6 linked regions of the Homo sapiens genome follow. The protein of the gene in region 1 interacts with the protein of each later gene in a pairwise test. Each region holds a gene or a part of one and is shown on either strand. Other genes may lie near its edges.

Region 1 (4,899 bases):
AACCCAGCAGCGTGAGTCACCAGCAGTTTCAGCCACTTCATCGGATGCAACAGACAAACGTTGCCCTGCTTGGCCGGGAGACTGTGGGGAAAAAGGTGAGACTTGCTACACCTAGCCTCCACCCCCAAATCCCCACCCCTTCTGACTTGACAATTCCCCTGTCTACCCCTCTTGTGCAGGAGCCCACAGGGTTCAGCCTTAACAACCCCATGTATGTCCGGAGCCCCTGTGATCCTGACAGGGATCAGCGATACCTGACCACCTACAACCAAGGGTGAGGTCCGCTTCCTGGTCCAAAGCTGAAACCCATTTGAGAAACAGACTGAGACTGGGATAAGTAATGAGCTCACAGCCTCGTGGAGAAGATCAATGCTGAGTGAATATGGGTTCCCCAGAAGCATACCCTAAGCCAAGGATTGGAGTGCAAGCATGTTATCAGGCAGTTATTAGGCGTGTGGGAGTGGAGAAGAGGGATGAGGGAGGGAAGGCAGCAATAATGAGCATGTTACTAGGCCAGCTATCCCACTGGGAAAACTCTAGAAAACAGTGTAAAGCACACAACTCAGAACTACCCCAGTCAAAGGTGAGAGAGCTGGGGTATTTATACCCCCACATCCATCGGTCATTGGTTAAAGGCTATCCCCAGGGCAACATTAAAGCCCAGGTGCCTCCTTGCTCAGGCAAAGCAGCTTCTAGCATCCCAAGGGTAGCTTTCCCACAGAGATGCAGGGCATTGGTGGCCAGGCTGGTGGGCATGGAAAGAACAGGGCAGTGCGAGGGAGTCTGGAGCAGCAGCATCTGCTAAGACATTCCATCCAGCCAATGGTTGGTGGGCTCGATGCTCCCTCAGAAGGTAAATTCTGTGCTGTGCATTCCCTGGGTTAGGAGTGACTGTCCTGGGCATCAGGGAGGGCTTCCAGGAAGGAGGTGGCCCCAGAGCCATGGGGAAGCCTCCTGGGGCCAGGACTGGGTGGGGAAAGCATTATAGGAGTGGTATAAAGGAAGTGTAATTCTTCTTCTTCTTTTTTTTTTTTTTTTGAGATGGAGTTTCACTCTGTCGCCCAGGCTGGAGTGCAATGGCGTGATCTCAGCTCACCGCAACCTTCGCCTCATGGGTTCAAGTGATCCTCCTGTCTCACCCTCCTAAATAGCTGGGATTACAGGCATGTGCCACCATGCCCAGCTAATTTTTGTATTTTTAGTAGAGATGGGGTTTCGCCATGTTGGCCCGGCTGGTCTTGAACTCCTGACCTCAAGTGATCTGCCTGCTTTGGCCTCCCAAAGTGCTGGGATAACAGGCATGAGCCACCGTGTCCTGCCAAGAAGTACAATTCCTTTTTTTTTTTTTTTTTTTTTAAGATGGAGTCTCTCTCTGTCGTCCAGGCTGGAGTGCAGTGGTGCGATCTCGGCTCACTGCAAACCCCGCCTCCCGGGTTCACGCCATTCTCCTGCCTCAGCCTCCCGAGTAGCTGGGACTACAGGCGCCTGCCACCACGCCCGGCTACATTTTTGTATTTTTAGTAGAGACAGGGTTTCACTGTGTTAGCCAGGATGGTCTTGATCTCCTGACCTCGTGATCTGCCCGCCTCCAGGAAGTATAATTCTTAGGACAAACTCCGAGCCAGGAAGCGCAAGCTTTCCTCACAACATCAGTCACCTGTGTCCACCCTGCTTCCTCTCCAACTCCTGGTCCTTCAAGGTGTCCCTGCCACCTCTCTGTCTCCTCCCCCTGCCCCACCCCCTGCTCCGGGATACCTCCCAGAATCCATTCATGGAATAGACTTTAACTGAGCCCTGACTGGGTGCCAAGCCCTGCTCCAGGCCCTGGGAATGTGTGTGCAGCTCCTGCCCTACGGAGCTCAGACCTCTGCATGGGAGGAGACATGCATGTGGCTGCAGCCAGTTAGCGAGAGCTGTTAGGTAATGCGCAAAGAGAAAGGGATCGCGAGGGCTGCAGTGCGCACGGGTCGGATTTGAAATCGGTGGCCTTGAGCAGGTGACGTTTGAACTGAGACTGAAAAGAGGGGAGGGCGGTGTCCTGGAGGAGCAACAGAGAGTCTGAGCTGGAAGGGCCGTTTGTTGTCCTCTGGCCTAAACCCTGAGGCTCAGAGGGGAGGAGCAGAGCTTCCGCCCGCACAGCAGACTCAGCACAGTGGCCGCTCCAGTTCCCACGGAGGTGGGGGAGGGGCAACGATGTTCTGACCCCTTCTTAGGCAAACACCTCCTCCTGTGGCTCTGGCAGAGACCAGCTCCAGTCCTGTCTGCTGGGTCCTTCCAGCCTGTCGTGTCCTGTTGTGTCCTGAGCTCCTGCTGGCTGTCAGGCACGCTTGCTGGTGCTTCCTGGTGCGCGCAGAGCCCCGGGATTGTCATCACTGATTCCTGCATTGATCTGTCTGCACCCCCTCTTCATAAGTTCAAGGGTGGGACCCCCTTCTTACTTGTCTTTGCACCCTCTGGACCTGGCTGTGCTCAGTGAAATGGAAGGAAATGGAAATGAAATGGAAGGAAAGTTAAGTGCCTAGAGAAGTGGATGAGACGGGGTCCCCACCCCAAGGTACTGGCAGGCCAGGGACAGGGGCATCACTGAAACTGTCCTTTAACACTCCAAAGAGTGTTTCAGCGTCAGGTGGAGGGGAGGGCAGGCTTTTTGAGTAAGAGTTCCCCCAGTGGACGTGGGCTTAGGGAGAGCTAGACGAGGACAGCATGAGCAAAGGTGGGGAGGCTGGGCGATCTGAGGGTCGATGGAGAAGGGCAGCAGGGGTTGCAGAGGTGGGCAGAGTCCAGCTTCCAGCCAAGGACCCCTCCTCTCCTCCAGGTACTTTGAGAACATCCCCAAGGGTCTAGACCAGGAAGGCTGGACTCGAGGTGGCATCCAGCCCCAGATGCCAGGAGGCTACGCCCTCAGCCAGCCGGTCAGCTGCATGGAGGCCACCCCCAACCCCATGGAGAGCCTGCGGCACCTGCATCCCCACGTGGGAAGGTGGCACCACCCCCAGCTCTGTTCTTTCTCCCTACCCCTCATCCAGGCCGTGTGCCAGGCCTTTCCCTTCCTCTCCTCTCTTGCTGTCAGTCCGGTTCATTCCTATGAGAGGCCCATCTCCTCTGGCTGGCTCTGGTGTCCCTTCTCCTGCTAGCACAGGCTCCTCCCCTCCTCTCCTTCCAGTGACCCCTCCCTCAGATGGCTCCTCCTCCCTCTCCTGCCCCTGTTCCCCAGGCCCGGTGGACTGGATGGGGAGGATCTGAGCAAGGGGCTCTGGGGTGGTTCAGATCCAGAGGGGGATGCGGGGACGGATCCAGAGATGAATGGACTGTGGTTCGGCCTCACTCAGCTCCTTTCTGCTCAATTCAATTCCTCAGAAATTACATTTATATCAACAATGGCCCAGAGTTGGCAGGCAAAGAATGTTTGTGGCTTGGCTGCCCTGGCTGAACCCTGGCTATGCTCTCTCAGGGAGGGTCAGGCAGAAGACAAGAAGACAAGGTCCATGCCCTGCCTGCCAACACCCCCAACACTCTCCTCTTGCCTCCCTGCAGAACCCTGACCTCAGCTGACCCCTTCTACCAGAACACACCTCACAGCAGCCGCTGCGTGGCACACAGCTGAGCCCTGAGCCCTTGGTAAGGGGCTGGGGATCCCCACACTCAGCTGCTCTGGTTGTGTGGGCAACCGTTATGGGCCAGCCCTGCCTCTCAAGCCCTGGGTTAAGCAAGTCCTGCCTGGGGACCCCCCTTCCAAGTGGGGGGTGACAGATCAGGGGGCCTCTCAGAACCCCTTCTCTGCCAGGCAAGCACACAGAACCACCCCAGAGCCCCTTGCTCAGGCCTCGCCTCTGCTTCTCCTCTACAGGTTTGTCAATCCTAGGGGACAGGAGCCAGGCTACTGTCTGTACCCCCACTCCATCCCCCAGGGGAACACCCCTGCCCAGCTACTTTCCTAATGAAATAAAGAGCATTGAAGCAGAGAAGTGTGACATCACTATCAGGGTGGCTGGAAAAAGGAGGGGTGAGCTGGGGCGGTGGGTGCAGGGGTGGAGGAGCTAGGGCCAGATTTGGAGTCGGAAGGGCTCGGCTGGAACCTCTGAGGAACCATGACACGATGGATAGGCACTTCATTCTCCACGCTCAGTTTCTTGTCCTGTAAAGGGGTCCTCTATGGCCTGTGCTGCTTGGGAAAGTGCTTGGTCAAGTGTGGGTGGAAGAACCCCAGGGGAGGGGCAGGTGGTCCAGAGAAGGGGAGGGAAGCAGACGCAGGGCAAGGGGACAGAGGAGAGTCTTGGATGCATGGCCACCTGGACACCAACACGGGGGTGGGGGGCGCTTGATCACAAAGGCTGGTGCCAGTCTCCGTCCCAGCCAAGGTGACCAGAGCAGGTCACCTGTTTGTGAGAAAGAGAACAAGCTGCCCCTTAGGCGGATGTCCCAGGTGGGCGCAGGCCCTGATGAGCCAACATCCTGTGTGGGAAGAGAAGGGCGTCTCTTCCTCCAGATGTTGCAGCCTGACACAGGCCCCCAGCCTGCAAGACAGCATCTGGGCCAGCTCTCAGCACCTTTTGTCACCTCAGCCAGGTGCATTTGTGCAGTGCACAACACTACAACTGTATGCTGTGGCCCTGCTAGCACCAACTCCTTATAAATGAGAAGTGTGAACCCAGGAGGGTGCGTGAGCTGCTCGGGGTCACACAGGGCAGAAAGGCAGGAGCAGCGCTGGGTTGGGGATATCCCCCGTGCCTTGCCGCCCTGTCTGGGCATGCAGAGGGGGTGTCCTCCGAACCCTTGCCTCCACTTGTGTTCCTTAGTGGGGGTCTGTGGAGCAGCACTGCTGGCCCCAGAGCCTGGCTGTACCCAGCACAGCCTTGAGCAGCAGGCCTGGGGGCTGTCCACAGCCCGGCTGGGGCTCCA
Region 2 (4,899 bases), on another chromosome or scaffold:
ACAGAGAGGAGTAAGGCTGTGGATAAGTTGAAGCATGTCCAGGGCTGAGCAGCCAGGTGAGGGCTGCTCCTGGGGGAGCAGCTGAGACTGGGCAGTGGGGACGAGGGACAGGAAGCCTGAGGAGGAGAGGCTATCTCTAGGGTCAGAGAGCTCCTTGCCAGGGTATGGTGTCGGCTGGGGTCATGGTGCTGGCCCCCCGGAGAGTGTAGGGATGTTGGTGTTCAAGTCTTCCTAGCAGCGAGTTATTTACTGCAGTATCTTTTCAACGTGCACTGATCTGGTTCCTAGTCTGCATCTCCTATCCTAGCCTCACCCTTTCTTCTACCTTCCCAACCAGGCTTGGATATCCTCACCTCTTAGCTTAGACCCCAGCTGACTGCCAGCTGAGAGTGAAAAGGTCACCCCCAAAGCGCCTTTCCATTCCAGCAGTTTCGGGAGATACGGGTGAGAGTTAGGTGGGCCTGGCTGCACCCCTATTCCCTTGGCTGGGCTTTCCTTGTCTGCCTGAGCTGACCTGGAGCCCCCTGTGTCCTGGGGGCCTGGGTCTGCCTCAGGGGCCCACAGAGGGAGAAGAAGCTGCAGCACAGAAGCTGCAGCTGGGTGTCTGGTGGCTTCCCCTTCCTGCCTCTCTCTCTGCAGCCTCACCCTCTCGAAGCAGCAGTAGCAGGAAAGGTGGGGCAGGAATGCCTGGCCTGGGCCTTTGGCCAGAGCTCTGAGGGACCCGCCCCACTCCATTCCAGAGCCAATTCCCTGGGAGTTGTAGGCTCTGCCAGGGGCCTGGGATGCCCGCATGGCACTCTCGGGGCAGGGTGGAGAGGGGAGGGCTGAGACCCCTTCCCACTCACCCTTTTGGGTCTGCCTGTGTCACCTGCCCATCGTTGGCTGCCCTGATTTTGTCCCCTGCCCCACACAGGTTGGCTAACTCCAAAGCCTCAGCGTGTCAGAGACAAGGAGAGAGACAGTCTGCGGGTCTTGGGCTAAAAGACCCTCTAACTCTCCGCCCCAGATACCTGATCAGGTCATTTGGGCAGATGAACATTGCCAAGTGAGGGTACCAGGGTCTGGTAGGGGAGGGCTTTGTTGGAGTAGAGCCTGTAGCCTGGCTGTGGGGGTAGGTTTGAGCCCAGGCCTCTCTTCACCCCTCCCTTTAGGCAGGACACTGCATTCCCAGGTGATTCCTGCCTGATTGGAAGGTCCCTCACTCCAGGGCAGGAAATCTCAAGGCTCAAGCCCACCTGCCCACCCCAAGGGCCCCCACCCATCCAGCAGGCACCCCTTCAGGGTGGATGGTTGTGATCAGTGATCCCTCTGTCTGGTTAGGGGACCATGGAGGGTCCAGGCTCCCATCCACATTGAACTCTCTCTCACTGCCTGGCACTATCTCCTCTACAACTGTCATACATTTATTTCCCCAAATGTGACTTTGGATCCCATCATTACCTTGCTCTAAAGTCCTCCATGGCTGTCCACGGCCGACTGAGGCACAGTGAAGCTGTGGTCCTTTGGGGTGCTGCTTGGTGGGCTGCCCTCAGAGGCTGGGCCCTCACACCCATGAGCCTTTACTCTCAGGGTTCCTCCACTTGCCTGCTGGGTCCTGTCTTCCTTTTCATTTCTTGCCCATCATTCGTGGCTCTAGCAGGAGGCCTCCGGACTCCCCCATACCTCCAAAACTCTCCTTGCTTACACAGCCTGGTTGGGTGACAGGGAGTCCCGAACCATGGGCTAGAGGACAGGGCTGGGATCCTCTGACAGTATGACCCTGTTTATAGAGACTGCAGAATCCCTGAAGGGAGACTTGATGGAAAGGAGGCTAAGACCAGGGCACTACTAATACTATCCTGGGCACTTGGGATCCATGGTGGATATTTGAGCAGAGGAATGAGCAGGCCAAACTGGGCTTAAAGAACATCTACCCTTTGGGGAAGAAAGGGTTGCTTCCCTTGGCAGCTCTGAGCTCTCTCTCTCCTTCAGGGACCCCTCAGCTGGGCCTAGGCAGGGAGCAGGGCAGAGGTCAGTGGCCAGTCCAGGAACTCCCCTTTGAGGCGATCTGGGCTCACTGCTCAGTTCTGATGTGGGTGGTCATGGACCTTGCTTCTGGGCACCCTGCCTGAGAGGATGGGCACTGGCCTTGCTCCTGTCTGTGCTATCTAGCTGTAACCTGTGCCCTACCTAGGAGGCCCTGAGTCCGGCACCTGGCCATGTGCAACCCTGAGGAGGCAGCTCTGCTGCGGCTGGAGGAGGTCTTCTCAGCCACCCTCGCCCATGTCAACAGCCTTGTCCTCCAGCCCCTGCTCCCAGCCGGTGAGTCTAGGCTTTCTAGTGGGGAGGGAAGGGCACCGAGGAATGATCCCAGGGACAGGAGACCTACCTTGTTGGACTTGCTGAGCCACAGCTTTCTCAACCTCAAATAGGAGTGGTGACACCTGGTATCAGCATCTTCTGATGCAGGTGGTGCGATCTTGGCTCACTGCAACCTCTGCCTCCCAGGTTCAAGCGATTCTTGTGCCTCAGCCTTCTGAGTAGCTGGGATTACAGGTGCCTGCCACCACGCCTGGCTAATTTTCATATTTTTAGTGGAGACGGGTTTTACCATGTTGGCCAGGCTGGTCTCAAAGTCTTGACCTCAAATGATCTGCCCGCCTCAGCCTCTCAAATTGCTGGGATTATAGGCATGAGCCACTGCGCCAAGTCTGACTGCTCCTTTTTTAAAGGAACGCTGAGGGGCCAGGCCATGAACCTACCTGTAGCCCAGACCAGGCTGTACAAAGAGATGGAATTCCTCCTTTCCCAGGGTAAAAAACTGGAAACTGCCCTTTGCTTGAATTTTCATCTTGCTCCCACCTAGGGCACCTGATGGTGCCGGGAGGGGAACAAGACTGACTGGAACAGGATGCCTAGGTTTTACTTCCAGTTTAATTCTCACCTGTGAGGCCTTGGACAGGTGCCTCTGTGCATCTGTGAAATGGCAGAGGACTGTGTGACCCTGTGGACTTCACATTCTGGATCTGAGTAGTCCAGGATGAGGAGGCCCAGAGCCAGGGGGGAATTCGTGTATGTACTTAGTTCCCTGAGGCTGTCAGGGTTGTCCCTGTTTAGTGAGGAGTGGGTGTGTCTCCTGTTTCCTCCTCGAGGATACTGCCCACTGCTCCAGCCTGCCCTTCCCCTGCTCAGCTCTAGGGTTCACCAATTCTGTCCTGCGGATCCCAGGGATGCAGACCCTGCTGCAGCTCCAGGGCTGGCCGGTGCTGGTGGCTCTCATGTGAACACCTGGGGCCTGTGCATGTTCCCTGGGAGATGGAGCCCACGTCCTCTACTCACAGTGTGACTGTACTCCTTCCCCAGCCCCAGATCCCTCGGATCCCTGGGGCAGAGAGTGCCTGCGGCTCTTGCAACAGCTGCACAAGAGCTCCCAGCAACTCTGGGAGGTGACGGAGGAAAGCCTGCACTCACTGCAGGAGAGGCTGCGTTACCCGGACTCCACCGGTCTGGAGTCCCTGCTGCTGCTGCGAGGTGCTGACCGTGTACTGCAGGCCCACATAGAGTAAGACCACTGGAGGTGGGGCTGGGGCTCATCCCTGGTGTCAGAGTGACACCTGGCATTAAGGTTCACCTGGGGTTGGGGCTCACATGGGTCAGGGTTCAAGCAAAGGTTTGGGCTCAGTCCATGGTTGGTGCTCACCTGGGTTCAGCCTCACCTGGGCTTGGGTATTCGCCTGACAGCAGGCTCAGACACTCCAGACCTGAGGCTTGGGGCCTCTCAGGGAAGACAGACTGTATGTTAGAATTGTCTTGTTGGCCCAGGAGTTGAGGTCTCCAGTGCCCAGAGCCAGGCCACTGTGTGGGCCCTCAGGGCTGCAGCTGACTAGTGGGTGGGATCTGGGGATCCCAGGGACCAGGGGCTTAGGTCTGGGGCTGAGGACTGGGTTTGCAGGGTGTCCCCTGTGCTGCCTGCAGGTACATTGAGTCCTACACAAGCTGCATGGTGGTGCAGGCCTTCCAGAAGGCAGCAAAGAGGAGAAGGTGAGCACAGGGCTGGTGCACTGGCCCCTGACAGGGTGGGAGTGCCTGAGTGAGGGTGGGGTCGGGGAAGCCCCCTCCCCAGAGCAGCAGGTGTCACAGCCCACAACTCATCCTGGAGGACTCCTGGCTCTACAAATCTGCACTGATCCACACTGGAAGAGAAACAGGGAAGGCCCAGTGAGGCCAGGAACAGAATCCAGACCCGCTCTAGCTGGGCTGGCCTTGGGGCGGGGAAGGAGGGGAATCCCTTCAGGGTGGATGGTTGTGATCAGCAATCCCTTCATACTCTGAGATATTGCTCTTAAACCTGTGAGGGCAACTCAGGTACTGTGTTGATCTGATAGGGTAGAGGTTTTGGGCCTGGGGCTGGCCCTGGGATCTGAGGGGATTAGCTGGGGCAGGGAGGTGGCGGTGTGGGTGCAGGAATGGAGGAAGGGGTGAAGGTGGTGCGTGGCCCTCTCTACACGCAGCGAGTACTGGCGGGGCCAGCGGAAGGCGCTGCGGCAGCTGCTTTCAGGTGTGAGCTCAGAGGGCTCGGTGGGCGCATCGCTGGGCCAGGCCCTCCACCAGCCACTCGCCCATCACGTGCAACAGTACGTGCTCCTCCTGCTGAGCCTCGGGGACACCATTGGGGAGGTGGGTACCAGGGGCAGCAGCATGTGGGGAAGCCGAGGGAAGGGAGGGATAGGGCCCAGACTCAGGGGGCTCAGCCTATACTCAGGAACCCTAGTACAAGAAGGACTCAGCCATGCCGGCAGGTGGGAGAGGGTTGAGGAAGTCACAGGCCTGTCCTGTGGTTTTCAGGGGACATGGGGGACGTGGCCCAGCCCTGAGGAGGGGGTCCGAAGACATGGTTCTGTCCTAGGGAATCTTAGTGGG
Region 3 (4,899 bases), on another chromosome or scaffold:
TATGTTGACTAGAAATGGTGAAAGTGGACATTGTTGTGAAGGACGTTTTGTTCCATTTCTCAGGGGGAATGCTTTCAACTTTTCCTCGTTCAATATGATGTTGACTATGGGTTTGTCATATATCGCTTTTATTACTTTGAAGTAAGTCCCTTGTATGCCTGTTTTGTTGAGGGTTTTTATCATAAAGGGATGCTGGATTTTATCAAATGCTTTTTTGTATCTGTTGAGATGATCATATAGTTTTGGTTTTTAATTCTGTTTATGTGATGTACCACATTTACTGATTGGCCTATGTTAAACCATTTCTATATCCCTGGGATGAAACCTGCTTGATCATGATGTGTTATCTTTTTGATAGCACATGTATCAGTATTTCTGTGTATAGATTTTGCCTTGTATAATTAAACACATTTTTTAAGGAAAAAAAATTTAAGGAAAAACTATTTTTAAGGAAATATTTTCAAGAGATGATAAATAAAACCATAGATACTTTTTTGGGTCTTTTTCCCCCTTATATTTATTTCAAAAAAGTATTTATATATTTCATGATTAAGTAAATTCAACTGTTTTAGAAAACAGGGTATGTCCATGTTTAACCATGTTGCCAGTACTAGGCATCAAAGGCTTGGGTAGTTAGTATGTAAGCAGAATTCTGTGCATAAGTTTCTATTAAATTTGATTGTTTTCCTTGGAGAAAGGGATTAAAAAATTTAAAAACTTCTGCCTACCAGTTTGTTACTTTTAATGTGAAATGATACACAAAGTTGGATCAGTATATTGATGAAATTTTTAAGGGTTCTTATCCAGAGAGTTCCCAGTGCCCTTCATTTTATAGGTTTTGCTACTATTATAAATGTAATAATGCCCAGCAACTCAGATAGATAAATGACATAATGAATATTATTTAAGGAATATATCTGTAATAAACTGTTTGTACCTACAGATACCACCTTGTCTTCTTTTCTGTAATTACAACTATTAAAGTATCTCCTCATTTTATTTTCTTGGAACCACCACCAAAGCAAGCATCAAGAAATCCTAATGTCTAGCAAGCAAACGGGGAAGACTTTCTCTTGTGAGAACTCAGACATCATCACATTTGTAAAGGAAAGGAGGCTGTGCTTAGAACTGGCTTCTGCATATAGCCAGGCACTCCAAAATGTGGCTGATGGACAGACCAGGAGATCTTTGTCAAGGATTAGAATTTTCCATTTCTCAGTGCTGTCTGGAACCTATATTCTGTTTTTCTCCTCCTGTGTATATTGTACTCTCAGGCATAATGGACTCTTCTGAAAATAACACACATTTCCTAAGTCGGATAGTGGTAGAAGGTTGCTCACATGAATATCATTTTCTCTTCTAGTTCCATCACCGGGACAGCTTCAACACAGGGTCCACAGCGTGGGGCATTTCCCAGTGTCTATCCGACAGCCTCTTAAAGCCACAGCCTATGTGAGTCCAACCGTTCAAGGCAGCAGTAACATGCCTTTATCAAACGGCTTACAGCTGTATTCCAACACAGGAATCCCCACACCGAACAAAGCTGCAGCTTCTGGGATAATGGGTCGCAGTGCACTCCCAAGACCTTCGTTGGCAATAAATGGGAGTAACCTGCCTCGAAGCAAAATTGCACAACCTGTTAGAAGGTAAGAATGTGTATTTGCGTAACTTCATTTGCAGTTTGGAACTAGAAACTGCTCCAGACACACGCTGACTTTTCCTTTGGCTCACTTTAACCTTAGTAAGACACTACCCTTTATGGCCTGACTTGTGCTCTCCTCCCTTTGAAAAGTGATGGATATCCCTGTGTGGGTCAGGTCCCCTTCTCTCTGATGTCATTTTCTTCCCTTACTCCCTCATCACTATCACTCCTAAGACGCTCTTTGCTTTTGCTTTTACCAGATAAGCTCTGTCTCCAGAGCTTTTGTAGCTTTCTGCTCCCAAGTTATTTGCATGGCTTGCTCTGTGCCTCCCTCAGGTCTTTGCTCAGATGGCAGCTCTATCCAAAAATTGTAGGGCGGGGGGAGGTTGACTTTTTGGTTCATTGCTGTGTATCCCCGATGCCAAGAACTATGCCCAATACAGGTAGGATCTCAAATATTTGTTGAATCAGTCATTTTTAATCAAAATATGGAAAAATGTGTCAGGCGTATGTGCACACGCACACCCTCCTCCCACACATTTATGGTTTGAAAAGCATCTTAATGACATTCACCTGGGGCTTTATCAGCTTATGTTGGTAAGTTCAGTATGGTCCAGGTAGTAATTTTTTTTTTTTCCCTTCAAAGTTTCAGAGTACTTCAAAGGACATTTAGTCTAGCTCTTGGTCATGATGTTCCCTTCTTGAACTGGATATCATGGAGTATCTTATATTAAAAATCCATAAAAGTGGTTTGAGGAGAGATTGGTAGATGAGGAAATAAAGACAATAAATACAGACAGCTCTTTCAAGAAATTAGGATATGAAGGAGAAGGAGAAAACCATAGTAAAAAGTTTGAAAGAGGTGGAACAAGCAATTTTTTTCTGTCTTTATGCATTTATGGATATATAAATAGTTTTATTTTGTTTTGTTTGTTTAGAAGTAATAGATGCTCAGATCAACAACAAATTTCGAAAAACAGAAACTATTGAAAAATAGAAAAGTAAAGACTGACCCATAATCCTACTGCCAGATAGAAATAATTTTGGTACATGTTTATTTATTCAGTAAGTTTTGGCTTATTCTGCTTTGTAAATGCAGAGCTGTGTCATCATGCTGATGGCTGACTAGAATCACATTATTTGATGTATATGGTTATTGTAGACCATACATTTATCCTTGACTATGTGTCTCCAAACTAAACTCTTGGAAAGGTCACTGCTAGACAATGTGAGATGGTCTATTTCCCCAAACTTAAGCAAATGCTAGGTATTATTCTTTTTAATTGTTTTAAATTTAAATTTTTTATTTTATCTATTCTTTTTAGAGACAGGGTCTTGCTCTTTTGCCCAGGCTGGAGTGCAGTGTTATGGTTGTAGCTTGTTGTAACCTCAAACTCCTGGGCTCAAGTGATCCTCCTGCCTTGCTAGGACTACAGTGCATATCACCACTCCCAGATAATTTGAAAAAAAAATTGTAGAGACAAGGTCTTGCTATGTTGCCCAAGCTGGTCTTGAATTCCTGGCCTCAAGTTTTCCTCCTGCCTCGGCCTCCCAAAGTGTTGGGATTATAGATGTGAGCCACTGCACTCAGCCAAAGATTCTTTTTAAATGTTTTGCGAATATGATAGGCAAATCTTCAATTACTAATAAGGTTTTGAAAATGTCTTCATATTCATTTGCTGTTTGTATTCAACAGAGTAACCATTTATGTTTTTAGGTCATTTTTCTAGCCAGGATCCTATATTTTTCTTATTTTAAAATATGTTTTATACATTAAGGGTATTGGCCCCTTTATTTATGTTGCAAATTTTCTTGTGCAAATACAACATGCATGACACTTTGCCATGAACTGGGGCTCTGGGAGATAAGCATGCAGTGAAGACCCGTAAGTGTGAACCACAAGGTACACTTGAGATGGTGCCAGTGGCTTCTCATTACTGCAGTGGAAGAACATAGATGGGAGAGTAGGTCAAAGTGAGTGATGTGACTCATAGGATTATTAACAATCTCTCTCTCTGTTTTTCTTGTCTCTTTTTAGTTTTCTTCAGCCTCCAAAGCCTCTGTCTTCACTCAGCACTCTGAGGGATGGAAATTGGAGAGATGGTTGCTACTAATGCAGTTTTATGTACCCTTGAAAAATGGGAAAGAAGTAAAAATGAGGGTTGTGTTACCTAGCTGGCTGGGTAGCAGTGGATGTTGGGATATTCTTTCCCTTTTGTGTTTTAATATATTTACTGCATTGTTTCTCAATGGACCAGTCACCAGAGACTAATTATTGCACTTAAATATTTGCCTGAGATACTGCAACATTCTCAAACCCATGGTTGCAGTATTGTGACACTTAGATCTAGGAAGTTTTTGTAGAACTGCTCTGTACCTGAATACTTTTTGAGAGAATTAAGATGTATCAATAATGCTTTGCCATATGAGTTTTTTAAAGTAACTTGTTCAATTTACTCACGTGTTCTAAACATCTTTCCATTACATGTTCTGTATTTTAATACATTGCATATTGACAACTAGGTTCTATAATGTATGCTTTGAAATTTACTTTTTTATAGTTTACAGGAATTTTATTTTTTGTGCCTATTTCTTTTTACACCTATGTGAACCACTATGGAACAACTTAAATTTTGTGCCATAAAAATATTTTTGTGGTAAGGTACTATTTTTTTAGCTCTAGGGATATATCAGCAAAAACACATCATGCAATTTGAGACACATAATTTTGTGTTGAATGAGCACAACATAATTTGAAGCATTGCAAGGAGATAACCAGACAGCAGAATTAAATGGTCCTGTCTTTTTCATTTTTAATTTATTGTCATACATGGGTTTCATATTTATAACGGCATCATGAGCTCATTGCACTTAATACCTGCAATGTTTGCTACTGTACCACAATTGATTTTCAATACTTTATTACGAAGGATGAAACTGTAATGTTTTATTAACAATGCTTCTGGAAATGAATGCATTTTAAAGCAAATAAATCTTTTTGATAGACCTTTTACAAAATCCATTTGCACTAATGAATGCTTTCTTATGGCATATAACTTAATATTTGTTACTGTGTACACTGCTGTTTTGGAATGTTCAGAAATAAAGACTCTATTTCAGCAATATCAGGTCATGCATGAATGTACAGCATAAACAGTGTAACTACACATGTGTTTCACTACAATTGTGAAAATGCTTATTGTTACTCTGTTCTTGTGCAGGGCATTTATATCTCAAGCAGGTAGACTTAGAATATT
Region 4 (3,797 bases), on another chromosome or scaffold:
ATTAGCTTCTCTGTGATCACATTAAGCTTATATTTCCTGCCTCTTGAAACATTTCTTTTTTCTTTTTCAATATCCTCCTCTACCTCCATAAATGCAGTCCTTAAACCACAGAGTGGCCAGGAATGGTTAGGGAAGGTTGGCTATGCAGTGAGGAAGCCGATGAAAATGTCTTTATTTACTTGCAAATATGCCTGTATGTTTTGACTAATTTATTTCTTAATCAATGGGACTAAAAATTTTCTTCCAAGTTCATATGTAGCTTATGTTCTTGGAGTAGTAAAGTTTTTTCTCTTCCATCATCCTCACTTTGGTTATATTATTAGTTGTGGTGTTCTCTTTGCATCTGAGAAAGCAATTAGAAACAATTACCCACCGTATCTCAAAATTCATGTTTTCCTCTCCTGACACATAATATTCACATATTTTACCTTCTTTTTATATTTAATGAATTTGCTTATTTTAAAATATATTAATTCCAAATTTCCAAAAGTATTGTAAAAATACTTTTCATCTTCTAGCAGAATTCCTGTTACTATTTTTTAAAGTGGTGACTTGGATAGAATAACATCAGCAAACCACATTTCTGGCCCAAATGCATTCTGGTGATAGCCTTAATTATGAGAGCTGACTTTCTATGAAGCTCCCTGTGATAATTTGTCACGTTTATTCCATCCACTTATTAAATATTATTAATGAATTATTAGTCATTTATTATGATAAAGCAATTAGAATAAAATATAAACAAATAATAGTACATATTAATTCATTTGCTACTCTTAAATGTAGCAGAACTACCAATGATCAACCTAGGGATCATACTTTGTAGATCAATGTGAGACTGGCAAAGTATCATATCAATAAGAGGCAAGTAGAACATTTAGTCAGAATTTCGGAACTGCACACAGTAGTTCATAAACTTTAGTGGATATATACCACCACCTTAACAATCGGAAAAGGCATGGATTCTCAAACCAGAAAAAAATCACCATGATAAATTCCTCCACTGGTTTGCATATGATCCAAAAGGATCCCAGAGTACATGAATTTATCCCCAGTTACCCCAAGCATAGAACAAAGATTGTGATTATTCTACACAGAATTTGAGTATAGAAAGTTGCATCATGTCATTCATTTGGTTATTTTTTCACTAATTCATCAAATCTTTATTAAGAATCTGCTGTATCAGGCACCGTTATAAGAAATGCAGATTGAGCAGATGAACAAAATAGACAAAGTCTCTACTTTCTGCAGGTTACAATGAGACAGAAGGGATAGAGAGACTGATTTTAAAAATGAATGAAATAGATTCTAACAGTGAAGAATCCTGTGAGAATAATAAAACTCAGTGAGTTACATTAAGTTCAGTTACTGGAGGTAGACTAATTAATATAAGGTGGCCATTAAAAGTCTCTCTGGGAAGTGAACATTTCAATTGAAATAGAAAATGAGTCAAATATTCCTGGTATTATTTTAAGAAAGAGAAATCAGTAAGTGCAGAGGCCAGGGCCTTATTGTGAGAAGAAACCTGCTGCATTTTAAAAGACAAAAAGCCAGCAGAGTTTGAGCATTATAGATAAATGGAGGAGAGTAGCAGGATATGAAATCAGAGAGATACGTAAGGGCCAGAACTTCTCAGCACAATGAAAGGCCTTTAGAGATATTTTTGCAGGGGCACGCTATGTTCTGATTCACTGAGGCATATAAAAGGCCCTCTGCGGAGAAGTGTCCATACTGAAGTCACCTACACTCCTTCCTACCCAAGGATGACCTCAACAACCAACACCATGTGTGGCAGCTACTACAGAAACTACAATGGTGGCCATGGCTATGGGTGCTGTGGCTACGGAGGCCTGGGCTGTGGTTATGGCGGCTGTGGCTATGGGTGCTGTGGCTACGGAGGCCTGGGCTTTGGCTATGGAGGCCTGGACTGTGGCTATGGAGGCCTGGGCTGTGGCTATGGCTCCTTCTGTGGCTGTGGCTACAGAGGCCTGGACTGTGGCTATGGCTGTGGCTATGGCTATGTCTCCCACTCCTTCTGTGGCTGTGGCTATAGGTGCGGCTCTGGCTATGGCTCCAGCTTTGGCTACTACTATTGAGGACACCATGGGAGACTCTCACCCTCTATCCTGTGACATTGCAATTCACCAATTCTGAAGCCCACATGCTCTGAGCCTTTCCCTTGATTGATGATATCCTGCAGTGGAAGTCTAATATGATCTGTTGTTGATCTACCATCTAACCCAAAAATACCCTGAGTTTCCATCATGAAGTGGGATAAGGTGAAGTTCACCTGTCACTTCTCCTTTTATCAGGATGATGGTGTCACAGTGACTCCTTTGATGACTTTCATGCTGTAGTTTGTTTCTCTGCTGACCTAATAAACACATTTAATCCACAAGAGAAATCTTGGTGTTTGTATCTTATTTATTGTCCAAAATTTTTTTCTTTGATTTTTTGCTTTTATCGTTATTTTTTTCAACTCTTATTTTAGGTTCAAGGGTTATATGTGTATATTTGTTACATGGGTGAATTGCATGCCACTGAGGTAATATGTGAAAGGTAGTTTTTCAACCCTTACCACCCCCCACCATCCCCACTCCAAGAGTCCCAGTGTCTATTGCTTTCATGTTTATATACATGTGCACTCAATTTTTAGCTCCTACTTATAAGTGAAAACCTGTGGTATTTGATTTTCTGTTCCTGCATTAATGTGCTTAGGATAATCACCTCCAGCTGCATCCATGGTGCTGCAAAGAATATGATTTCCACTCTTTGTTGTGGCTACATAGTATTCCATGGTGCACATGAAACACATTATCTTTTGTCAACTATTGTTAGACATCTGGGTTGATTCCATGTCTTTGCTCTTGTGAATAGCACAGCGATGAACAGACAAGTGCATGTTTCTTTTTGGTAGAACAATTTTTTTTTCTTTGGGTATATACCCAGTAATGGGATTGCTGGGTCAAATGGTAGTTCTGCTTTAAGTTCTTTGAGAAATCTCCAGATGCTTTCCAGAGTGACTGGAATAATTTAATATTCTCATCACCAGTGTATAAGCATTCTCTTTTCTCCACAACCTCACCAACACGTTTTAGTTTTTGACTTTTTTAATAGTAACTATTTTGACTGGTCACTAATGTTATGCATTAACATATATATTTGTTATATATAACAAATATATGACAAATATATATGTAACACATATATAATTTATATATGTATTTGTTGTATATAACAAATATATAAAAATATATTTGTTGGCTGATTTTATAGTCTTTTGAGAAGTGCCTGCTCATGCCTTTTGCCCATGTTTAAAGGGGTTATTTGGTTTTTGCTTGTTGATTTGCTTAGGATCCCTATGGATTCTGGATATTAGACTTTTGTTGGATGCAGAGTTTGTAAATAATTCCTCCCATTCTGTAGCTATATGTTTACTCTGTAGACAGTTTCTTTTGCTGTGCAGAAGCACTTTAGTTTAATTAGGTCCACTTCTGTTTTTGTTGCAATTGCTTTTGAGAACTTAGCCAAAAATTATTTGCCAAAGCCTATGTCCAGAATCATATTTCCTAGGTTTTCTTCTAGGATTTTTATAGTTTTAGGTCTCACATTTAGATCTTTAACCCATCTTGAGTTAATTTTTGTATATGGAGGAATGTAGGTCACCAATTTAAATTTTCTGCATGTGGTTAGTCAGTTATCCCATCACCATTTATTGAATAGGAAGTCCTTTCCCCATTGCTTGGTCATTATCAACTTTGTCGAAGTTTAGATGGTTGTAGGTGTGTGGCTTTATT
Region 5 (4,899 bases), on another chromosome or scaffold:
GTCTCCAAACTATAACTAGTCTCCTTGATATGGAATGGCCAACACCAACTAGTGATGGATATATTTGTTCTTATTGCTTGTTTCACAATGGGTGACTAGGTTAACCAAAGAAGGTGAAGAAACCACAGAGAAAACACAAAATATTGAGCTTTTGGAATTCAGAAATGCAAATGCTTAGAACCATGTTTTCCATCAGCATTTATGAAATCTTGCTTTTTAGAAACGGGCCAGATCATTCCAGTTTCTAAGTTTATCTTTCTCTACTGATGTTACTCAGCTGTAATGTTATTGACTGATAGGGAAGGCAGAGCATCTTGTAGTCTTTCGGCAAGAAAGGAGAAATATAATGGAATCCATGCCCAATGCTCTCAAATCTTGACATATTCCTAATTTCAGTATTTGGCCTGCCTTATTCGTAGAGCATCAAAAGCTTTTCAAAGCCTTTACACACACAGCCTTCCACCCCTCTCCCCCCAGACAAAAAATTATAGCCAGTTTAGCATTTACTCTTTACAAGGAACTTATTTTCTGAATCTGTCATTAAAAAGTACCTTAATAACTCTCTGTTCTACCACAGTATCCAACCATTCAATAAAAGCCTCCACAGTGGCATTCTTCTTAAGGAGATCCTTCAGTTCTTGGAACACAGTGATAGAGTCATCTACCCAGGAAAAAAAAAAAAAAGAAAGAAAAGAAAACAGAATATTGTACTCTACTTGGAATCCAAGAGAAAACCTAAAACTTGGAATCATCAATACTTTGATAGCATGAAAGGGAAAGACAGATAAATGTGTGAAAAGAATTAATATCATATCTTGAAAACAGTAACAAAAAAATCCTTAGTACTGTACTCTTCAATGGTGTGTGTGTGAGAGAGAGAGAGACAGGATCTTGCTTTGTTGCCCAGGCTGGAGTGCAATGACGTGATCATGGCTTACTGCAGCCTCAAACTCCTGGGCTCAAGTGACCCTCCTGCCTCAGCCTCCCAAGCAGTTGGGACTCCAGGCACGCACCAACAAGCCTGCCTAAATTAAAAAAAAAAAAAAATTATAGAGCAAGGTCTTGCTGTGTTGCCCAGGCTGGCCTTGAACTCCTGGGATCAAGCAATCTTCCCACCTCAGCCTCTTGAAGTGTGCCCGAAATTTTAATAAGTGTATATATCTTGGTATATATTGAAATATAGGTTTAAATCTTATATGTGTATTCACATACTAGGGAAGATTAAGTTGTTTATGTAGTTAAATATTCATTTTGAGTCTAGTGTTTTCATTAAACGGAACAGATTAGTTAAAAGTGAATGAATGAACCTAAGCTTGGTGATTTCCTGCTTTCCAAAATATCTTTTATCTTTAGTAAAAGTTAATTTCTTCTCAGCAGAATTGAGCCATTTACCTGAATAACGTTTTATCATGTAATATTTAAAAGGGCAGTTTAAGACTATCCTTTTATTAAAGGTTTTAAGGTTTACTGAATCTCAAAAGGTAATCCTATTTTATGTTAGGAAATAAAAAGTGGAGTTGAGATTGGGCCCCAGAGAGCAGTCCATAGTTTGTGCTCCAGTGTATAGGAGGCTGCAGGTTTTGTCTTTTCAAAGACAGAGGGAGGAAAAAATAGTGGCTGTTATCCCTTGAAATTCAAGCCTAGTTGTCTAGCCATGCATATTGGCTTGGTAAGCTCTCTCAGATGGTCCAAACCTGAGTAGAGAGTCTGCTTTGAAAAGCAGTATTGTGCTGAGATACCATTTTGATATTTATCACACACCACAGGATGACAAGACTATAAAACACATGTAAATTTCTATACATGTAATGTAAAACTGAAAGAAAACTTACAAAACTCAAAACAATTTGATTATTTTCAGATTATTTCCATTTCATTTATTTCTAGGTAATGAAATTACAGATGACTTTTATTTTCCTCAATATTTTCTATCTTTTCCATGGTGAGTAATTATAACTATTTTTTATTAGAAGATAAATTTTTTTAATTAAAAATATTTTTATAAACCAGGTTTTTTTTCAATCAGATGTGATTTTTCAGCCCAGAACACCTTTGACAATGTGGGGAAACATTTTTGGTTGTCTCAGCTTGGGGGAGGCTGCTACTGTCATCTAATGGGTAAAGGTCAAGGATGCTGCTAAACATCCTACAGCACACTGGACAGGCTCCTCCAACAGAGTTACCCAGCTCAAGATGTCAATTTTCTGAGCTTAGAAAACCTTGTTCTAAACAAAGAGAATGGACTTACGTTCAGTGTAGATACCAGATTCAGTGTCTGTGCTGCCTGAAATGGTAAGAAGGGCTTGAGAGCCAATGCTGTTCAAATCAACCCTTTCAATATCAGACACCATAGAATTAACGACATGCTGGTCAAAGAGAGCTGGTCTGGCAATCTGCATAGAGAAAGTAAAGAAGACACTACACTATATCATTTCTAATGTATCTAGAAGAAATTTTTAGCTATCAGAAAAATAGTTCCTTGAGATAAAAGTATCATAAATAACTTTTTTCTTATTTTAAAGACAAAAGCAGTAGCTGAGACTCATGATCATCTCTGTTAAAAGTCTGAAAATTATAGGAGATACACCTAATGTAAATGATGAGTTAATGGGTGCAACACACCAACAGGGCACATGTATACATATGTAACAAACCTGCACGATGTGCACATGTACCCTAAAACTTAAAGTATAATAAAAAATAGAAAAAGAAAATATAAATGGATTCTCTTTGTCCATGATCACAAAATAAGAATTTTTAAATGTTACATTTCCTATCTGAAATCATCTCAAGCTTGTCTTTTAAAATTTAGAAGGCAAGAAACCTTCATAAAGCAGATAATCATTTTGGGGAAAGAGAAATATATTTTAACAATATACAAATGCATCATTCTTAACTTATGAATTACTTTTGCTCTATTTAAAAGAGCCATGATTAGTCGGCAGTTTAAAATGTGTTGAGTTTGTGGTTTCACAATATTAAGTATCACACAGGCTTACTTCTCACAACCTTAATTTGTACCAATTAGATTCACATGGCAAATAAATGTTTAATTGCATTCAAGTTTTTTAAATTTCCAATCACAGAGAAGTTGCAAAGATAGTGCAGAATATTTCCATATACTCTCCATCCAGCTTCTTATCATCTTCTGTAACTATTGTATATTACCCAAATTATGAAATTAACATTGGTACAATACTATTAACTACAGACATAATTCAAATTTCACCAGCTTTCCCACTAATGTGCTTTTTCTATCATAGCATTCACTTCTGGGTCTCACGTTGCATTTAGTTGTTGTCTACTTAGCTCCCTTCAATCTATGAAAGTTCCTCAATCTGTCCTTCTCAGAAGATTCATTTTTTATATGGTGACTCAAATGCTCTCGACTTAGCAACCAACATACCTGGGCAAGATGTAAGAAAGATGTTTGTCGTTTCAGAGAAGATACAAATCTTCGCACAATAGGTATTTTCTTGTCAGTTAGAGCTTCTGGCAAGTTTTCCAAGGATGAAACAACCCACTGTTCCCAATTTTTAGCAAAATTTCTTATGTCTGCTAATAAGCTACAAAGAAGGCTATGTGTTAAATGCTTCATTGTTAAAAAATGCATTAAACAATCATATTTTAATTGAGGTATACTATTATTCTATGGTTTCATAAGCAGTACTTTTGAAGTCAGACAGCCTAGATCTGCCATTTATCATCTTTTCTTATGCTATATTTTTAAAATGTTTGTGGGTGCATAGGAGGTGTATATATTTATGGGGTACATGAGATGTTTTGTTATCATCTTGGTCAAAACACTCAAGCTCTTCAAACTCCACTTCAAGTACCCAATTCAGAGTACAGAATAGATATTTAAAGACTACAATTGATAATTAAAAGACATTATTGATCAGGCTAATACCAACTATCATATAGATGAAATAATCTGGAGGAAAAGGTAAATAAAAAGTAAAATTTGTTTTACCAAGCAACATCTATTTTTGGAGCACCAACTATGTCCAGTCCTATATGAATTTGTACCCCCAAAATACTAAAATAAATTTTATCATTTCATTAGATTTTGTTTTCAGAGAAAAAGTTGGCTTTTTTTTTTCAGAATTCTATTGTTCTTATATTGAAAAGGTTTTTTTTTTTTGAAAAATCTTCTGGTATTGTTTCAATAAACTATTTGAGATTTTATTCCTTTGTTAAAAGAAGGCAGTAATTTCATCATGCCACTTTCTGATTTTGTAATTAAGACAAAAGTTAATAATAAAATACAATAATTTCTCCTATAGTTTTTATTCTTGTGGTTATTTTCCATTAATTATCTTTTTTATCATACTCCAGCTAGTTTCCATTGAAAAATTTCTCGAAGATCAACAGTGCTTAAATCTATTTTTCACTTTAGCCGCTCTCAAATTAAAGGGATTGAAGGATTGTTTCACCCATTTTGTTTATTGAGGCCCAGCTATAAGACACATCTCTTCCAGCAAATACAAAGGGACAAAAGTAGAAAATAGTCTTCTTGATAAATGAATAAATTACTACCTAATGTTTTCTTCTAATATAATGTATAAAGTTAAATCCTATACTAGGAATGCTCATGTTTTATTAACTGAACATACCTTTCAGGCATTTCTTGCATTGTTGCAGGAATGAGTACATCTGTAAGAACCTTAATCATAGCAAAAGAGGTTAATACAAATCTTTACTTAGTATTTCTATAGAAAGACATATTATTGGTCAACTACTTTTTATTCCTAGCTTCCTAGAGAATAACATGTTAACTCCTTTCTCAAAGTTATAATTTTATCTCCAAAATGAATGTATGTATGAGTTGTGTGTGAGTGTGTATGACAATAAAAACAAGAGATAGCACTGTATATGTACATGCTCAGTATGTTAATT
Region 6 (5,364 bases), on another chromosome or scaffold:
AGGCTAAGGCCATCCCTGCATCTCACCTCCCCTTCCTCTCACATACACACTACATCTGCCTCACCTCTCATAAAGAACATCTGGGCTGGGCACGGTGGCTCACGCCTGTAATCCCACCATTTTGGGAGGCCAAAGTGGGCGGATCACAAGGTCAGGAGATCGAAATCATCCTGGCCAACATGATGAAACCCTGTCTCTATTAAAAATACAAAAATTAGCTGGGCGTGGTGGCGCATGCCTGTAATCCCAGCTACTCAGGAGGCTGAGGCAGGAGAATCACTTGAACGAGGGAGTCGGAGGTTGCAGTGAGCCGAAATCGTGCCACTGCATGCCAGCCTGGTGACAGAGCAAAACTCTGTCTCAAAAATAAAATAAAATAAAATAAAATAAAATAAAATAAAATAAAGGGCCATGCGCGGTGGCTCACGCCTGTAATCCCAGCACTTTGTGAGGCCGAGGCGGGCAGATCAACAGGGTCAGGAGATCAAGACCATCCTGGTTAACATGGTGAAACCCCATCTCTACTGAAAATACAAAAAAAATTAGCCAGGCGTGGTGGCGGGCACCTGTAGTCCCAGCTACTTGAGAGGCTGAGGCAGGAGAATGGCGTGAACTCAGGAGGCGGAGCTTGCAGTGAGCAGAGATTGCGCCACTGCATTCCAGCCTGGGCGACAGAGCGAGACTCCATCTCAAAAAAAAAAAAAAAAAAAAAGAACATCTGGAGCCATAATTCCCGATGTTCTTGTTACTTGACACTGCCTAAAGGCATGTTCTGTGGGTTCCGGGGAAACTGATTTGAAAAACTTGAGTGTTGTAAAGGAGGGCCATAAGCTGAGTGAACACAGCAGTTGTGAGAGGTCCCAGGTGCTTCCTGGGGACAGGGAGACACGACAGACCAAGAAGCAAAGGGGCCTCTGATGTGACTTCAATATCAAGGTCTTGTCGGGCACAGTGGCTCATGCCTGTAATCGCAGCACTTTAAGAGGCCGAGGCGGGTGGATCACTTGAGGTCAGAAGTTCAAGACCATCCTGGCCAACATACTGAAACCCTGTCTCTACTAAAAAGTACAAAAAATTAGCTGGGCATGGTGGCTCAAGCCTGTAATCCCAGCTACTTGGGAGGCTGAGGCAGGAGAATCTCTTGAACGTGGAAGGTAGAGGTTGCAATGAGCCAAGATTGCGCCACTGCACTCCAGCCTGGCGACAGAGTGAGGCCCCATCTCAAAAAACAAAATCAATGTCTCGATGCAGACTGCCAGGTATCAGGTGTCCATCCATGTCTCCAAAAAGCCACTTGGCACCAGGAGCAGACAGGAAGGGCAAAGAGGAGCCAGACTGAAGCAGGGCTTCTTAGCTCCCAAGCCACACAGGTGGCCACCAGTCAGAGAGGCAGTGTGTGTGTGTGTGTGTGTGTGTGTGTGTGTGTGTGTGTGTGTGTGTATTTCTTCAGTTCAGTGTGTGTATGTATGTTTCTTCTGCAGCTCAGTGTATGTGTGTATTCCTTCAGCTCAGTATGTGTGTGTGTGTATGTTTCTTCTGCAGCTGTGTGTGTGTGTGTGTGTGTGTTTCTTCTGCAGCTCAGGATGCCTCCAACATTTCTGCTGAAGCCTCACCCTCACTCCTGGCCCATCCTGAGGCCTCTACCTAAGATGCCAATGAGTAGCCCAGACACTGGGGCTCCAGTGTTTGTCACCAGGTGGTACCTGGATGTGGGAGGTAGACAGGCCAGATGGCCAGTTTGGGCAGTGCCCCCATGCCTATCTGGCCCTGGGTCCCTATGCCACCTTGCTGGGGAGGGTCTTTTCGCTTACACCTCCTCTGAGCCGACTCTGCGCAGTAACACAAATGTGTATCAGGCACATCCTTTCCTCAAAAGGTGGATGACCAGTTGGGTGATCAGGGCTGTTAGGGGGCTGAAGGGTCCTGGGGAGTCCAGGTCTAGCCAAGTTGAGGCCTATCCTGCTGCATTTTCCAGCCACCTGACCCAAATACACCACCTGAACCCACGACCAGGTATGCCCACACCCCATGGGTGGCCTTAACACACACACCCTGCCCCTTTCTCCAAGTACAGGAGCAGCAGCCCAGACTTCCCTCGGGGCACCGCGGCCTGCTTGGGACTGCACAGTGCCTGGGAGGGTGCCTGGGGAGGGTCACAAGGGACTTGGTGCTAGAAGCAGGAAAAGTGTAGGGACCGGAAAAGCCCCCGTGCATCCTGGAAGGGACATGGGCCAGTTTGAGCAGGGGTGTGGGAGTCCAGCCCTGGCCTTGCCAGGTGGAGAGGCGCCTGGGCCAGACATCCGCGGCAGGAGGCGGGGGAACATGCCAAGAGGCGGAAGGGGCACGCGGAGACCCCCAGGGGGCGCCGGAAGGGGCGCGCCGGGCGGTCGGCGGCGGCCGTTGGCGAGCTGAGGCCTGCCAGGCGAAGTCTGGAGACCAGCCGGGCCGCGGCCGCAATGGCCAAGGACTCGCCCAGCCCCTTGGGCGCGTCGCCCAAGAAGCCGGGCTGCTCCAGCCCGGCGGCGGCAGTGCTGGAGAACCAGAGGCGGGAGCTGGAGAAGCTACGGGCGGAGCTGGAGGCGGAGCGGGCAGGCTGGCGGGCGGAACGGCGGCGCTTCGCTGCCCGGGAGCGCCAGCTGCGTGAGGAGGCCGAGCGGGAGCGGCGGCAGCTGGCTGACCGTCTGCGCTCCAAGTGGGAGGCACAGCGCAGCCGGGAGTTGCGGCAGCTGCAAGAGGAGATGCAGCGGGAACGCGAGGCCGAGATCCGGCAGCTGCTGCGCTGGAAGGAGGCCGAGCAGCGGCAGCTGCAGCAGCTGCTGCACCGGGAGCGCGATGGCGTGGTGCGCCAAGCCCGGGAGCTGCAGCGCCAGCTGGCCGAGGAGCTGGTGAACCGCGGCCACTGTAGCCGCCCGGGGGCGTCCGAGGTTTCCGCGGCGCAGTGCCGCTGTCGCCTGCAGGAAGTGTTGGCGCAGCTTCGCTGGCAGACTGACGGCGAGCAGGCGGCGCGCATCCGCTATCTGCAGGCGGCGCTGGAGGTGGAGCGCCAGCTCTTCCTCAAGTACATCCTGGCGCACTTCCGCGGGCACCCGGCTTTGTCGGGATCACCGGACCCCCAAGCTGTGCATTCCTTGGAAGAACCGCTGCCCCAGACCTCCAGCGGCTCTTGCCACGCCCCCAAACCCGCCTGCCAACTCGGATCTCTAGACAGCCTGAGTGCTGAAGTCGGTGTGCGCTCCCGCTCGCTAGGCCTGGTGTCCTCTGCGTGCTCCAGCTCCCCAGACGGCCTGCTCTCCACGCACGCCAGCTCCCTTGATTGCTTCGCACCTGCGTGTTCCCGCTCGCTTGACAGCACCCGGAGCCTCCCCAAGGCCTCCAAATCCGAGGAGCGGCCCTCCTCACCAGACACCTCCACCCCTGGCTCCCGGAGGCTCTCGCCGCCACCATCGCCACTCCCGCCGCCACCACCACCGTCAGCCCACAGGAAACTCAGCAACCCGCGGGGAGGAGAAGGCTCTGAGAGCCAGCCCTGCGAAGTCCTGACTCCCTCACCCCCGGGCCTGGGCCACCACGAGCTGATAAAGCTGAACTGGCTGCTGGCCAAGGCGTTGTGGGTGCTGGCGCGCCGCTGTTATACCCTGCAAGAGGAGAACAAGCAGCTGCGGCGTGCAGGCTGCCCCTACCAGGCAGACGAGAAGGTGAAGCGGCTCAAGGTAAAGCGCGCGGAGCTGACCGGGCTCGCGCGGCGCCTAGCTGACCGCGCCCGCGAGCTGCAGGAGACCAACCTCCGGGCCGTGAGCGCGCCTATACCCGGCGAGAGTTGCGCCGGCCTGGAGCTGTGCCAAGTCTTTGCCCGCCAGCGCGCTCGGGACCTGTCGGAGCAGGCGAGCGCGCCGCTGGCCAAGGACAAGCAGATCGAAGAGCTGCGGCAGGAGTGCCACCTCCTGCAGGCGCGTGTCGCCTCGGGTCCCTGCAGCGACCTGCATACTGGAAGGGGCGGCCCCTGCACCCAGTGGCTCAACGTCAGAGACTTAGACCGCCTGCAGCGCGAGTCCCAGCGGGAAGTGCTGCGCCTGCAGAGGCAGTTGATGCTTCAGCAGGGCAACGGTGGCGCTTGGCCCGAGGCGGGCGGCCAGAGCGCAACCTGCGAGGAGGTGCGACGGCAGATGCTGGCGCTGGAGCGCGAGCTGGACCAGCGGCGGCGCGAGTGCCAGGAGCTGGGCACGCAGGCGGCCCCGGCGCGGCGACGTGGCGAGGAGGCCGAGACACAGCTGCAGGCGGCGCTGCTCAAAAACGCCTGGCTGGCGGAGGAGAATGGGCGGCTGCAGGCCAAGACCGACTGGGTGCGGAAGGTGGAGGCTGAGAATAGCGAAGTGCGCGGCCACCTGGGCCGCGCGTGTCAAGAGCGCGATGCCTCCGGCTTGATCGCCGAACAGCTGCTGCAGCAGGCGGCGCGCGGGCAGGACAGGCAGCAGCAGCTGCAACGCGACCCGCAGAAGGCCCTGTGTGACCTCCATCCTTCCTGGAAGGAGATACAGGCGCTCCAGTGTCGGCCTGGTCACCCTCCTGAACAGCCCTGGGAGACCAGTCAAATGCCGGAGTCCCAAGTTAAAGGTAGCAGAAGGCCCAAGTTCCACGCACGGCCTGAAGACTACGCAGTGTCACAGCCCAACAGAGACATACAGGAGAAAAGGGAAGCCTCCCTCGAGGAGAGCCCAGTTGCCCTTGGGGAGTCAGCCAGTGTCCCCCAAGTTTCAGAGACAGTCCCTGCCAGCCAACCTCTGTCCAAGAAAACCAGCTCCCAGTCAAACTCCTCCTCTGAGGGGTCGATGTGGGCCACCGTGCCGTCCTCCCCTACTCTGGACAGGGACACAGCCAGTGAGGTGGATGACCTGGAGCCTGACAGCGTGTCCCTGGCCCTGGAAATGGGGGGCTCGGCGGCTCCTGCTGCCCCCAAGCTCAAGATCTTCATGGCTCAGTATAACTACAACCCATTTGAGGGGCCCAATGATCACCCTGAGGGTGAGCTGCCCCTCACAGCTGGGGACTACATATATATCTTCGGGGACATGGATGAGGATGGCTTCTATGAGGGGGAGCTTGACGATGGCCGGCGGGGGCTGGTGCCCTCCAACTTCGTGGAGCAGATTCCGGACAGCTACATCCCAGGCTGCCTGCCTGCCAAATCCCCTGATCTTGGCCCCAGTCAACTCCCAGCGGGGCAGGATGAAGCTCTGGAGGAAGACAGCTTATTATCTGGGAAAGCCCAGGGAATGGTGGACAGAGGGCTGTGCCAGATGGTCAGGGTGGGCTCCAAGACAGAAGTAGCAACAGAGATCCTGGATACCAAGACGGAAGCCTGCCAGC

The links.
Region 2: the proteins of SAXO4 (region 1) and ALS2CL interact in binary tests that used the Homo sapiens proteins (3 or more experiments, as listed by UniProt).
Region 3: the proteins of SAXO4 (region 1) and SLAIN1 interact in binary tests that used the Homo sapiens proteins (3 or more experiments, as listed by UniProt).
Region 4: the proteins of SAXO4 (region 1) and KRTAP6-3 interact in a two-hybrid assay, tested with the Homo sapiens proteins (one large-scale study listed by BioGRID).
Region 5: the proteins of SAXO4 (region 1) and RFX6 interact in binary tests that used the Homo sapiens proteins (3 or more experiments, as listed by UniProt).
Region 6: the proteins of SAXO4 (region 1) and RIMBP3C interact in a two-hybrid assay, tested with the Homo sapiens proteins (one large-scale study listed by BioGRID).

Annotation. Positions count from the first base shown.
Region 1 is NC_000011.10:61,486,967-61,491,865, forward strand, and holds the end of SAXO4 (stabilizer of axonemal microtubules 4), read left to right. Parts: coding exon 1-95; intron 96-179; coding exon 180-274; intron 275-2,815; coding exon 2,816-2,980; intron 2,981-3,534; coding exon 3,535-3,604; 3' UTR 3,605-3,618; intron 3,619-3,847; 3' UTR 3,848-3,962; downstream 3,963-4,899.
Region 2 is NC_000003.12:46,686,740-46,691,638, reverse strand, and holds part of ALS2CL (ALS2 C-terminal-like protein), read left to right. Parts: intron 1-2,173; 5' UTR 2,174-2,198; coding exon 2,199-2,301; intron 2,302-3,342; coding exon 3,343-3,541; intron 3,542-3,954; coding exon 3,955-4,020; intron 4,021-4,490; coding exon 4,491-4,656; intron 4,657-4,899. UniProt on the Homo sapiens protein: Acts as a guanine nucleotide exchange factor (GEF) for Rab5 GTPase. Regulates the ALS2-mediated endosome dynamics.
Region 3 is NC_000013.11:77,759,465-77,764,363, forward strand, and holds the end of SLAIN1 (SLAIN motif-containing protein 1), read left to right. Parts: intron 1-1,363; coding exon 1,364-1,646; intron 1,647-3,680; coding exon 3,681-3,756; 3' UTR 3,757-4,765; downstream 4,766-4,899. UniProt on the Homo sapiens protein: Microtubule plus-end tracking protein that might be involved in the regulation of cytoplasmic microtubule dynamics, microtubule organization and microtubule elongation.
Region 4 is NC_000021.9:30,590,683-30,594,479, forward strand, and holds KRTAP6-3 (keratin-associated protein 6-3), read left to right. Parts: upstream 1-1,757; 5' UTR 1,758-1,784; coding exon 1,785-2,096; 3' UTR 2,097-2,373; downstream 2,374-3,797.
Region 5 is NC_000006.12:116,917,804-116,922,702, reverse strand, and holds part of RFX6 (DNA-binding protein RFX6), read right to left. Parts: intron 4,667-4,899; coding exon 4,617-4,666; intron 3,567-4,616; coding exon 3,407-3,566; intron 2,394-3,406; coding exon 2,249-2,393; intron 662-2,248; coding exon 552-661; intron 1-551. UniProt on the Homo sapiens protein: Transcription factor required to direct islet cell differentiation during endocrine pancreas development. Specifically required for the differentiation of 4 of the 5 islet cell types and for the production of insulin.
Region 6 is NC_000022.11:21,548,069-21,553,432, reverse strand, and holds the start of RIMBP3C (RIMS-binding protein 3C), read left to right. Parts: upstream 1-1,971; 5' UTR 1,972-2,456; coding exon 2,457-5,364. Other genes in the region: UBE2L3 (ubiquitin-conjugating enzyme E2 L3), read right to left, coding at 3,783-3,983.